Linked DNA regions of Homo sapiens. The protein of the gene in region 1 interacts with the protein of each later gene in a biochemical or structural test. Each region holds a gene or a part of one and is shown on either strand. Other genes may lie near its edges.

Region 1 (5,452 bases):
TACAATGGGCAATCTGTGTGTTTATCCGCTCCTCCACCTCAGGCAGCAAGGGTGGAGAGGGGCCCTGAGAGGGAGGGGACCACAGGGCCAAGGCTTGTATTCTCCCCTCACAACTGGGAAGCATCTAGAGTCATAGCTAACTTCTCTTGGGGCTGTGGCTGCAGTCTTGCTCAGATTTTTTCCTCCTTTTATTTATTCATTTAGATAAAAAACAGCATACAATTTATAATCTTAACCATTTTTAAGTGTACAATTCAGTAGTGTTCAGTATATTCACATTGTTGTGAAACAGATCTCTAGCAATTTTTCATCCTGCAAATGTATAATTCTATACCCACTAAACAACAACTCCCCTTTACCCCCTCCCTCCAGCCCCTGGCAACGGCCATTCTACTTTCTGTTTCTATGAATTAGACTACTTTAAATACCTCATATAAGTGGAGCTATACAGTATTTGTGTTGTTACTGGTTTATTTCACTTATCATCATATCCTCAAGGTTCATTCATGCTGTAGCATGTGACAGAACTTCCTTTTTAGGGCTGAATAATATTCCACTGTATGTATATAATACATTTTGTTTATCTGTTGTCTATTGATGGACATTTGGGTTGCTTCTACCTCTTGGCTATTGTGAATAGTGCTGCTATGAACATGAGTGTGCAAATATCTCTTTGACACCCTACTTTATTTGTATATATACCCAGAGGTAGGATTCCTGGAGCATATGGTAGTTCTATTTTTTATTTTTTGAGGAACATTTATACTGTTTTCCATAGTGGTTGCATCATTTTGCAATCCCAACAAGGCATAAGGGTTCCAATTTCTCCACATCCTTGCCAAGACTTATTTTTTGTTTGTTTGGTTTTTGTTTTTATAGTAGCCATCCTAATGGGTATGAAGTGATATTTCATAGTGGGTTTGATTTGCATTTTAATGATTAGTGATGTTGAACATTTTTTCATATGCTTGTTGGCCATTTGTATAAAATCTTTGGAGAAATGTGTATTCTAGTCCTTTACCCATTTTTTTCTTAAAAAATGTTTATTTATATAAATTTATGGGGTACAAGTGCAATTTTGTTACATGCATAGATTGCATAATGGTCAAGTCAGGGCTCTTAGGATGTCCATCACCTGAATAACATACACGGTACCCATTCTGTAATTTCTCATTTCACGCCCCTCCCAATCCCTCCTTTGCCCATTTTTAAATTGGGTTATTTGATTTTTTGCTGTTGTTGAGTTGTAGGATTTATTTATATGTTCTGGATATTAACCCCTTATCAGATATATAATTTGCAAATATTTTCTCCCATTCCATAGATTGCCTTTTCACTCTGTTGATTATGTTCGTCAATAAATTAAAGTCTGATGTGGTCCCGTTTTTTCTATTTTTGCTTTTTGTTGCCTGTGCTTTTGGTGTCATTTCCAAGAAATCACTGCTGAGTCCAACATCATGAAGGTCTCTCCCTATGTTTTCTTCTAGGAGTTTTATGGTTTTAAGTCTTTAATCCTCTTGCTCAGTTTTAACCTGCCTGGTGTATCCTTCTCATCACTTCTGTTCCTTTCCTGTTACTCGTTTTCTCTTCCCTTCTTACTACCTTTCGTCCTCCTCTTCCTTTCACCCTGTCCACCTGCCTCTCTGTCTCTCGGCCTCTCCCCACCCCCCGACCCCCACCAGTTTCTGCTGTTCTTCCCTCACATTCACAGTTCCTTACCCCTCCCAGCCCATCTCAAACCTGCTTTCCCACCTCTGAGCTGAGCATTCCCTCCTCCCTCCGCTGCTATCACTTCTCTCTTCTCTTTTTCAGGCTTCAGACTGGCACCCTGACCATGGAACCCTGAAGTGGCAGTGACTTCTAGAGCTCAGTGGCAGACCCCACGACCCTTCCTCCCCCTTCCTCCCCCTCCCACCACCAGCTTTCAAGCTCCCAGAGGGAGGGGTGGGGAGGGGATCCTGATCTCACAGGGCAGGGGGCTTCCATCATGATGCTCAACTCAGACACCATGGAGCTGGACCTGCCGCCCACCCACTCAGAGACTGAGTCGGGCTTCAGTGACTGTGGGGGCGGGGCGGGCCCTGATGGTGCCGGGCCTGGGGGTCCGGGAGGGGGCCAGGCCCGAGGCCCAGAGCCGGGAGAGCCTGGCCGGAAAGACCTGCAGCATCTGAGCCGCGAGGAGCGCCGGCGCCGGCGCCGCGCCACAGCCAAGTACCGCACGGCCCACGCCACGCGAGAACGCATCCGCGTGGAAGCCTTCAACCTGGCCTTCGCCGAGCTGCGCAAGCTGCTGCCTACGCTGCCCCCCGACAAGAAGCTCTCCAAGATTGAGATTCTGCGCCTGGCCATCTGCTATATCTCCTACCTGAACCACGTGCTGGACGTCTGAACTCAGCCTGTCTCCCACCTCCCGGGCCTCTCTGGGGCCCCTTTCCACCGCTCACTGCTTAGAAAGGCCGCATCCTCCCCGAGCCCTTATACCTTGGCATGGAGTCCCAAAGGCCCTGGGCACAGGCAGAGAGCCCACCGGCTGGTCATGAGGGCCTCTTCCTTTCTCTGACCCAGGCACCTCGAGGGCTATTCTCCTGGGTTCCTTCCGGGGTTTATTGCTGAGGCCCAGCTGTGCAGAATTGTTTGCTAGTGTGGTTGGTATGGAATCCTTGCTGGCTTTACTAAGCCAGCCACACTTGGAGTCTGCCCCCAAGCTCTCTCACTGAATGCTGCCTCTTCTACCCCTATGTCCAAATTTTCAGCCACCACAGACCTCAGCTGTGTATCCTATCTGTTCTAGCTTCTCCTGCCCCTGGTGGGGATGGGCTGTCAGAATTGCAAGGGAGGAAGGCTGGGGTTAGAGTGGGGAGTGGGCTTCTTCCTCCAAGATCTCAGTCTCTCAGTGCTTGGCAGAGGGGTGAGGCCCTGGGGAGGCAGGGGTTGGTGCCCTGACTCCTGTGAGGGGAATCTCAGTAGCTGGGAATTATGGAAAAACTCTTCCTGTTTCTGTCCATCTTGTTCCTGTGGCTTAGCACATACAGACCTCAGATCTTACTTGGTAGTGAGTGCCTTGCCCTCTTTGAGCTATTTGGCTACTTCCCTGTCCCTCTGACTCCTACTGTCCCAATTTTCTCCCTCCCTGTGTGTCACTAGAGAAAAAAAAAAACAAAAACCTAGATTCCGGATTAGGGGATGACATCCCAAACAGCCCGGAGTATTTGCAGAAGGCTCAGGCAACGAGTGGGCCACATCTCACTTCTGCTTCCTCATCTCAGCCCACTCTGAAAATGTGCAGCACCCTCACTGGTTCCTCCCCCCAACGCAAGGAGGATGCCCAATTGTTGCCCTCTGAAAATGCACAGTTCTCCTGGCCCTAGGACTTACTTATTACATTTTTTTCTCTTTCCTTGAGCTGCCTTTGGCAAGGGAAGAGACCCCCAACTCTGCGCCCCTACTCCATGCTGCTGATCCCCACCTGCGCACTATAGCTCAGGGTCAGCAGTGGAATGAAGGGCCTTAGAACCTGCATAGAAGAAATGAACTCACTGCATTTCTGTGCTCCCTCCTCCCTCGCACCAAACTCCTAGCTCTACAAGTATATTTATTTATTTATTTATTTATTCATCTATTTATTTACTTATTTATTTATTTATAAATATTGCTATTTATTGCCGAGTTGTGCACTTTGGGGTAGAGTGAGGGGCTCCCAGCAGCTCTAGCTGGGTCTCTCTTGCTTCCTCCCTGCTTACGCCTTTCCTTTTCTTGCTCCTTCTTCAACTCCTGGTGTGTGTGAGCATGCCCTTTGCTTGCCACACCATATCCTTTCCCCAGATCCACCTGTCCTGACACTCTAGTCCTCCAGGATAGTGCTCCTCCCCCAGCTCCAGGGCTCCTGGATGTCCTTCCTCAACTCCCTCCACCCCTAGACAATCCTACCTGGTCCCATCTGCCTCTTTTCTCTCCCCAGCCTGCCCTGTGACCCTTGCCTCTTCCTGATACTCCCAAGAGCAGGCCCCAGGGGTCTGTGTCACATATCTCTGTGTGATTCCTTCTGGTTGCATCCCCAATTTCATACAAAAAGAAAAATAAAAGTGACCTCGTTCTAGCACCAGGTATGGTTGTGGCTCATTCAATTGGGTTAGGAAGCTGGCCTGCAGGTTATGGTAGGGTGGGCATTGAGGGTCCTAGGCTTCGTAGGCTCTTCTGATGGGGTCAGGAGAGCTCAGTTTGGGGAACAAATGAAGACAGAGAAAAGGGGCCACAGGGAAAAGAGGTGCAGGGGAGAGTATAACATACAGGTCCAAGATCTCCTCACCAAAATCTGGGTGCCAGATACTCCCTTCTTGGCACTAATTTAGTGACACTATCTGACTTCTCTGATGTTGTGCTTCCGCTCCTGCTCTCTATGGCCTGAGAAGGAGGTGAATATTTCGGTGGAACCCAAGTTAAACATGTGTCTGTGGGTCCATGCTGCTGGGAAAAGCTATGGTATGAAACTGAGACATTGCCTTCCCCTTTATTGTCTCTAGGCTGGGTCAAAATTCCCTGCAATCTCAGTTCTTGGCCTATTTTGTGTTCCCCAGCCTTAGGATACTGGGGAAAACAGATGGCAGGCCTGGGACTCAGAGAAGAATATGGACAGGGATAAAAAAAAAAAAAGAGTGCTGAAGGGACCCTCAAATGAATTTATAGATGGGGACACTAAAGCTCAGAGAAGGGTAGGGTCTTACCCAAGGCCACACAGCTAACTGGGGGCACAACTAAGGCCCAAATCCAGGTTCTTTCTACCATATGCTGCCAACTCCCCTCTGCCTCCCTAAAATGACCCAGGCTGACAGTTAGCCCTCTTTTGGACCCCATATTTTCATAGGTGCATTGATAAACTAGAGAGGATTTAGGGTTGTGTGGCGAAGAAACCAAAAGGTCTGGAGACCACTTTATAGAAGAAATAGTTGAAAAACTGAGGATATGTGTCTTGATAAGAGTAGACTTGGGGGTAATATGACACCCATCTTTAAATATTGAAAGAAGAATCAAAAATGGATATTCTGTGGGGCCCCAGTAGGCCGAACAAAACCCGTGAGTAGAAGTTAGAAGAAAGCAGATTTTAATTTGAAGAAAAATTTTGCAACACCTGGAGCTGTCCAGCAATGGCACTGACTGCCTCAAGAGGAGAACTCCAAATAGAGAAGCTGGAGAGTCAACCACACGCAGAGAAATCATAGAGCACATTGCTGCCTCAGATGGAACACTGGCTAGGTTCATTAGAAGATCCTCTCCAAACTTAAGGTCATACGAGAAGGCTGAAGGCAAACAGCAGGAGGGAAATGCAGAGACAACTTTCAGTCCCTGAAATATTTTCTTTTTTCTTTTTATCTTTTTGAGACAGAGTCTTGCTCTATTGCCCAGGCTGGAGTGCAGTGGCGGGATCTTGGCCCACTGCAACATCCACCTCCCCATT
Region 2 (8,088 bases), about 99 Mb from region 1:
TGTGTGAGAATCTGCAACGGTTCATGGACAAGGAATAAAACAATTAAGGCAATGTCAGGGTTATAATACAGAAGAACATATTTCAACCCATAAAATTTTGGTTTGAGGGAAAATGTGTGAGAGTTATTAGAGTTCTTGGAGGATGAGCTTGAGAAAAACTACTGGAAATACTAAGAGATTACTTTCTTCTTCTATCTCTTTTTCTTCCCTAAGACTTATAAAAGCAGAAAAATGCAAGATTCCAAGCTTGTCTGGACACAGCTCCCTGATACCATCCTATTTCATATGGCCCACGCTTAGATTTTCTAACTAGTTCTGACTCCTCTTAAGAGCACTCTTATGTGTCTACAAGACCTCCTCCCCATAGTGGACTCTCAGACCAAGAATCACTGGTTGTATTATAGAAGTCTTGCAACATATCCAATAATACAATAATGATCCTGACCTTCTCCTTTCTCAGTCTTAATAAATTCTGCTTTTAACGGAAGAAGCATTTTTGAGTTAAACATGTATATGTATTTTTTCAATTGTTTGAATTTTTAACTTTTTCTCCTTTAAACTAAAACCAAGAGAGGATTTTTAAGAACTGGTGGGCTGCTGGACTGGTGGGGAGGGAATGAACAAGTAAACCAACCTGACTGACCTGCTTTCGTTTTTCAAAGTATCCAGTAATATGATCATTTTGTAATAAATAGCTGAGTATTACACCCTTTGGGAAATTGTGGCTCTCTGTTTCTTTTCGTTGTGGCTACTTTGTTCAGGATGTGTAGGCAGTGCCATTGCAGCCAAAGAAACCTGATCAAATTTCCTTCCTTCCCATCTTATTTATATTCTTTGTGAAAAGCCCAAACAGTTGTTTTAAACAAGTCTGGCCACTCGTTAAAGTTTAAACTAGTAGTGAGATCCATCAGGAGTGAAGTGTTTCTGACACTCTCTGCTGCTCCTGGCCTAGGGTACTAAGAGTATTAGATGCCGGAAGCAGCCAATTTTGTAGTGTCTTTTAATACACAAAATTGTATTAACATCAATGTGGATACAGATGGATGCACTGCAATAAACTGTAACCACTTGAGAAAAGCCTTTATTGACTCTCAAGTAAATAATGCACATTTTAAAGGATCTAAATATGCATTTACATAATGTGCTATAATTTTTTATGGTGTCAACTACTCACACACACACATCCATAAGACATGTTTTTCTTCGTCAAAAATCTGGACTCATACCATTCTTCGTGCATTCCATTAGCATCATGCCAAATTCATAATGGTAGTTTTTTTCTATAAAGCCTGATCTGGCCACCTCAAAATATAGTTGATGAATTTTACTCTTTAATTGATTTAACCCCAGTGGCTCTTTCTAAAATGATTTGAGACAAATAAAAACTTAGGTACAGTAAAAACATCCAAGATGAAGAGAGAAAACAAGAAATAGGAGAGAAGAGAAACAAAGTTAGGCAGGCATTGATGACATCTTAATTCTGAGTTTCAGTGGGTTTCATTGTCTGGTAGAAGAGGAATAGCAGGTTATCTAGAGAAATAGCATCTATTTAATAATAACTAGAGCTTTGTGATGTCAGTAACGTAACTATTTTCTGTTTGAAGAAATGAAGGTTCAGGATCTCGAATGATTTCTCTCCAGTTGCACAGTGAACTGATGACTGAACCAGAAAGTCCAAAGCATGAGAAAGTAAGGGTTGCAAAGGATGACCCTTTAAAATGCAGACTCAGCAATTGCCCAATTTGAAACTACAGGCTAAATGATTTCCTGGTATTAATTAAGAATTAATTGATTCTTATAAATCAGTCATTGTAGAATTAATTCCATATAGTACCATATGTTCTTGTGTTTGTGTTAAACTCTGTTCCACAAGGAAATGGTGAATAAATTGTTTTTAGTAAAATAAAAAACGAAGGTCTAAATTTAAGTTGCTAATGATTGTCTTTTACGTATTTAACAACAACAAAATGAGGGAAAGGATGTTTATAACAGTTAATGAGGAGATGACAGGGTGCTTTTGAGTTATTTCTTCTATCTCATTTCTTTAAAGATCAGCTCTGCTTGATCTTTGCTCAAGTGAATTTCTTTTTTGGGCAGCATTTTCTGTAGGCCACCGTGATTTCATAATCTAACAATTACCCATCACTTTCCATTGAGCACCTGAGGCAGCGGCACTTTATCTTCAAGGTCAGCCTACCAGGGGCTCTTGTCAGCAGAATTGGCACCTTTGTGTTTGGCATTCTGCAAAAGTTGAGTGTTTCGTTTTGTTAGGCTCAGTATATTCTCAGCCTAGTTTGGGAAATATCACATTCTGTCCTTAACTAGTGACTATTCCATCAGACGCAGGGTACCGAGTACAAGTTTTTTGCCACCAGCAAGGAGGACTGTACCATGTTGGATGAAAAAATTCCTTTGATTCTTGAAAGCCAATGGCATAATTTGCAGAGTAAGAGATGACCAGAGCCATTTAACTTTTTAGCTTGTGGGTTTTAACAAGCAACAACAATAGATCCCAAGATTTATCATTCATTGCAGGAAGTCCTAAGTTTTACTCATTTTTCTTTTTTTTTTTTTTTTTTTTTTGAGACGGAGTCTCCCTCTGTCGCCCAGGCTAGAGTGCAGTGGCGCGATCTCGGCTCATTGCAAGATCCGCCTCCCAGGTTCATGCCATTCTCCTGCCTCAGCCTTTGGAGTAGCTGGAACTACAGGCACCCACCACCACACCTGGCTAATTTTTTTGTATTTTTAGTAGAGATGGGGTTTCACCGTGTTACCCAGGGTGGTCTCAATCCCCTAACCTCATGATCCGCCTGCCTCAGCCTCCCAAATTGCTGGGATTACAGGCATGAGCCACCGTACCAGGCCAGTTTTACCGATTTTTCTAAAAGCTCCCTGGCTCTTGACCAGGTGGAGAAACCAAGTTTTGGTTTTAGCAAATTTTATTCTATGTTTAACGGTATGATTATCTTATTAACCTCTGTTTATTCAGTCATTCACTGCACATTCAACAAATATTTATTGAGTGCCAGACTCAGTTCTGGGGATATTGCAGTGGGTTGAAAAGGTATTTACGAAGATGGAGAAGGCTGGGAGAAGTGTAAGCTTGAGAGGAGAAGGTAATGAAAATTCTGATTCAAATAGGTTATGTTTGAGACATCCTCAATTGTATGACCGATGGCAAAATTTCATCTGTTTTGGCTCAGATTTGTTTCTTGAGCCCATAGTAGGAGCCTATGAATATTTATTGGGCAGATTAAAGATTGCATAAATTAAAGGGTTGCACCAGACCACCTGCAAGACATGGATTGGAAAGTTGCTTCCCCTCCAATCGCCCATTTCCAGTCTTTTTGAAAACTACAGATGTCACTCTGAACCCCATAGCATGAGCCATTTCAGTCATTAGTCAGAAAGTGCCCCAATCATGAGGAGATCCCGGTAGGGAACAAAGAACCTATGCCCAGCAACTAATACAGATGCATTCTTTTTCACAGCCTTTAGCCATGCAAGTGGGATAGTGGTAGAAGTGATGGCCTGTCTTACTGAGTTTCTCTTCAGTATTATGAGTCATTCTTGGTATTGGAAAGGTCTTATTTTCCAAAATGTGGACATTCCTGTGATTTTCAGTTTAAAGATTTAAACCGAAGAAAGGAAAGATAAATACTTTCATCTCCTCTAATTTGGGAGAGGTTTCTCTGGCTCTCATTGAGAAGCAAGAGCTGCTGCTATCTTGGCTTGACTTGGTTTGAATATCTGCAACCTTCCCATGCACTGCTCTTATCCTCCAGCCAGTTTTATCAATCATCCTTCTAATTCAAGGGCAAAAGTTCTCTTAGAGAAGTTATTAGGCACCTCACATAAGTTTTTTTAATCTAATGTAATCTTCTTGTTCACATGAAATTTACCAGGGTTCAAATGTAAGGGAGCAGTAGTTGTCTGAGTCTTTTATCAGTTTTTATGGGCACAGGGCCAACATTTTAGCAGGGGTCACTGCCTGCTTACCCTGTGGGTTCCCCTGCTGTAACATATGTGCATTTCTGAGTTTGTCTTTGAAATGGCATCTGAAGGCGACATAAACCATCCGTGTAAAGTGAGGCACCCAAATTGCATGGGCTCATTAAGTGATCATTTACTACATACTTCAAAAAATTTTCATCCTGAATTAGTCCCTAGAAATTTCCTTGAAAGGGGTATAAGAGGTTTAACAATGAATTATTGTCTATGGATAGCTCAGCGTGAAAGGGGATCCATATGTGCAAACTAGAATTTGTCATATGTAATGTCAGTTAAGTCAGGTCTAATCTACCAAATACATTTTTTATTGCTTGCTTCATTAAAAAGGCTCTTAAGGTAATGAATAATCTTCAGCCTCACCAAGGATTATTAATGCCTTTATAACTCATGTCCACTGAAAATAGAAAGACAGCTTGAAACTCTACCCTAATCTAACCTCCGTGTTTGTCTTAGAGCCTTAAGGAAGAAAATCTGTCAGACCTATCCAGTGTTAAATTCAGTCACATGAGCAATATTGTGAATCGGGCCAGGAAGAGAAATAAAGGAGGAAGTTGAATCGGGTTCAGCTATGACAAAGCAGGTCTTTCTTTTCATAACCCTGATGTTTTCTTTTCCTGCAGCAAGTCCGCATGCAACACCATCGACTCTTCATTTCCCGACATCACCCATTATCCAGCAGCCTGGGCCTTACTTCTCACACCCAGCCATCCGCTATCACCCTCAGGAGACGCTGAAAGAATTTGTCCAACTTGTCTGCCCTGATGCTGGTCAGCAGGCTGGACAGGTGGGGTTCCTCAATGTAAGGAAACCTCTTTTTTTCCATTTCTTTAGAAATGTTAGCCGAATATAAAAATAACAAGGGGAGACCTTATGATCATGTGACGTTGTGCTCTAATGTTGTGCTGACTGACTGCAGGCAAATGTCATATTTATTCTAGATTGTGGGAAAGTTAACTTGGTCTAAGAGTGATTAGTCAGGGTTTAAAAACAGTGTTTGTGTTAAGTTTGCAACTGTCAAGTTTATGGATATAAATCAGCTCAAGGGTGAACTATATAACCTTCTAAGTTCTGTGGGCTGATCATTCCACCTCGTGCATTCTAACCCCAGGGCTCATACAGTTAACAAAATAGAAAGACCAAGTAGTTTTAAATAATGATTTGGGGTGGTAGAGAAAGGTAGGGAGATGAAGGGGACAGATGTTTCAGATCAACTAAGTTGATATTTTTGAAAAATACAGTCTTGTAACACTTTAGATCAAGTTGACCAGTACTTGAACTCAAGATGCTGAAAGTACAGTTTATTATGGTTTGTTATTTCTGCAAGTCATTATCTTTCCCACTTATCTTGGTATAAAGCTAAACAGTGTTCAATAGCTTCACATGAATGTTTTTATTTTTCCTCAAATAAACCAAATAATCACAATTTGAAATGGCATTCCAAATGTAAAAGTGATTTTTAAAAATCAGAAATTTTATTTCAAATATAGGATTAGATGTTTACAGTGGAAAGCTGTATCTCAAGGCCAATAATAATAAACAACGACCAGCATAAAGCCAAATTTGATTTTCCTTTTCTACTAATAACTGTGCATGAAGTCACAGACTAGCCATAATTATTACTGGCCAATTTAGGATAGTATGTCACACCATCCTGTCACCGATTTTTTTCACTTGCAGAAATACCTGATTCTGCATATCTGCGCCAGAACAGGCAGCTTTGACTAATGTCTGGTGATGTGTTAGCAGATACATTTCTGTCTAGACAACAAATCAATATGGTGCCTCTTTTCTTTTTGCTTGTACATTCATTTGCTTGGCTTATTCTAAAGCATTCACTTATGGACTCTCAGCCCACTCAGAAATAACGCAAAGGCAAGGTTGCTGGCAAGAAAGCACAGCATTCTGATCGTCAGACGAGGTAGTCTTTGAGGAGCAATACTAAATATATAAGTACTAAATATATAAGTAAATGTTGATGGGGGAGTGAGACTGCCTCTGTAGAATTATTAAGCTTAAATGTAAAAGCCTGGGACAGCAGAATCTCCTTCAACCGAATTTTGATTGGGGACTAAATGTGAACTGTTGTCGTTGGTTGAATAGAGGCCTCTTGGGAAACAATGAAAAAACTGAGCTGATCACCAGCATCAAGCATCTGACTTCTAAATTATTAACCATTTTTGTAATAGTCCTGACACCCTATATAACTGTCAAATGCCCAGTTTTGCATTTTGATCAGAATTTTATAGGACTTAAGGCAGGTCTCTTCATGAAACTATTTTGAAAAAATTGAAAATAAAATGGGTTTTATTGCTCTCTTTGGAGGGGAATTTTTTGTTAAAGAGCTGTTATTTGGTTGTTTTAACATCAGGCAGCAAAATAAATATGACTCTTATGGCATATGCTTATATAATTTAAATCAAAATTAGAAGTGATATTTTTCCCTAGCAGACTTCTGACAGCTGAATTCTAAAGTTTCTGTGCCTGATGTTATACAATATGTGAACAAAATTTTCTATGTTCACTTAACACATTTATTAAATGTTATATAATATCAACTTTGAAGAGTGAAAATAAAATATTACTTTTTTATCTCAAGTGCATATTTAGGAAAATTTATTCTATCTATGTAAAGAAACATAGTGGAATAATGCCACAGTCCATAAAACACTTAGATATTAAATATTTAATAATCATGAGAAAGATAATGAAGGTAGCAGTTAATACAGAAAAATACAAAAGATTCCAAGCAAAAGTTGGTTACTCAGGGGACAAATCCAAAGTGATAATTGGCAGGTGATTTTATGAAACCAGATGCAAAGAAGGACAATGTAGTTCAAGAGATAAGTTTAGGATGCATGGAGCACATGTGGCTAAGAGTACTTTTGTGAAATGCCTTAAGAACAGAACCCAACAATGGACATTTCCGTATGGGCTTATGGAAGAATTGAAGCAGCTAGATACTTAGTAATTTACATTAAAGGTGCCTGATGAATATTTTGTTTTCAGAAGCAGCTAATGGTTGCTGTCTCTTTCTTCTTTTTCTTGTACGTGTGTTTTCTGCCCCCCCCCCCCCCACAGCCCAATGGGAGCAGCCAAGGCAAGGTGCACAACCCATTCCTTCCCACCCCAATGTTGCCACCGCCACCGCCACCACCGATGGCCAGGCCTGTGCCTCTGCCGGTGCCAGACACAAAGCCTCCAACCACGTCAACAGAAGGAGGTGCAGCCTCCCCCACGTCACCAAGTAAGTATGGCTGCGACAAGGCGCCGGTCACTTCTAAAGCTGTATGCACTGGAATCCACACTTAGGCTTTGTCCCTCACTGTATAGGCTCTAGAAAGAGGCACAGATCCCCAGTGATGTTGTAGCATGAGTTTGCCAGACCGAGAATCAAAGTGAACATGACTCTTGGGTACTCCACCAGATGAGGAAAACACTGGGTGTTGGGTGGATGAGATGGTGTAGCTACATACCTAGGACTGAAGTCAAGTTATGAGCTATTACATTTTGTATATTATTTGAGGGATTTCAAATGCTATTCCCATCATCAAGCAGCAGCTACTTACATGGATTCTGCTTAGAAAAAGTTCCTCATTCTTACAGACAGCCCTGCCTTCCAGGAACTTGCAGTCTAAGAGAAATGCACTTGAAAGTTATATACCTCATACATCAAATAGGAGAAAATGTCTAGATCAAAGCACCAACTCAAAGGTGTGTACACTGACCATTCGCTGAGAGTAAGAGCCTGGCAGAAGATCAATGCTAGTAGCCCTGGCAGTCGCATGGTGAGGTTTGGCAGAGGTTGGGGTAGGGGCTGGGGTACGGAGATAGAGGGGAGAGTAGGATGGAAGGAGGAGAGAAGTCTTGGCTCTTCTCTGAACAGTCTGAGAACATTTAATCAAAGAATATAAGATTTCACAACCCTTTTAGATGATGGGAATGATTACTTGAACTAGAGAGAGAGTAATTCTCCAGATATTCCCTGATGTTTTAGATATGGCAAGGGGATAGAAATAGTTTGAATGCACAAATGTGCCTTTTATTAGTGCCTGGAATAATGACAAAAAGAGTGATGGC

The links. The genes of interacting proteins can lie anywhere in the genome.
Region 2: the proteins of NHLH1 (region 1) and NFIA form a complex in vitro, tested with the Homo sapiens proteins (one study listed by BioGRID).

What each region holds. Positions count from the first base shown.
Region 1 is NC_000001.11:160,368,745-160,374,196, forward strand, and holds the end of NHLH1 (helix-loop-helix protein 1), read left to right. Parts: intron 1-1,812; 5' UTR 1,813-1,987; coding exon 1,988-2,389; 3' UTR 2,390-4,102; downstream 4,103-5,452. UniProt on the Homo sapiens protein: May serve as DNA-binding protein and may be involved in the control of cell-type determination, possibly within the developing nervous system.
Region 2 is NC_000001.11:61,399,473-61,407,560, forward strand, and holds part of NFIA (nuclear factor 1 A-type), read left to right. Parts: intron 1-4,631; coding exon 4,632-4,810; intron 4,811-7,089; coding exon 7,090-7,255; intron 7,256-8,088.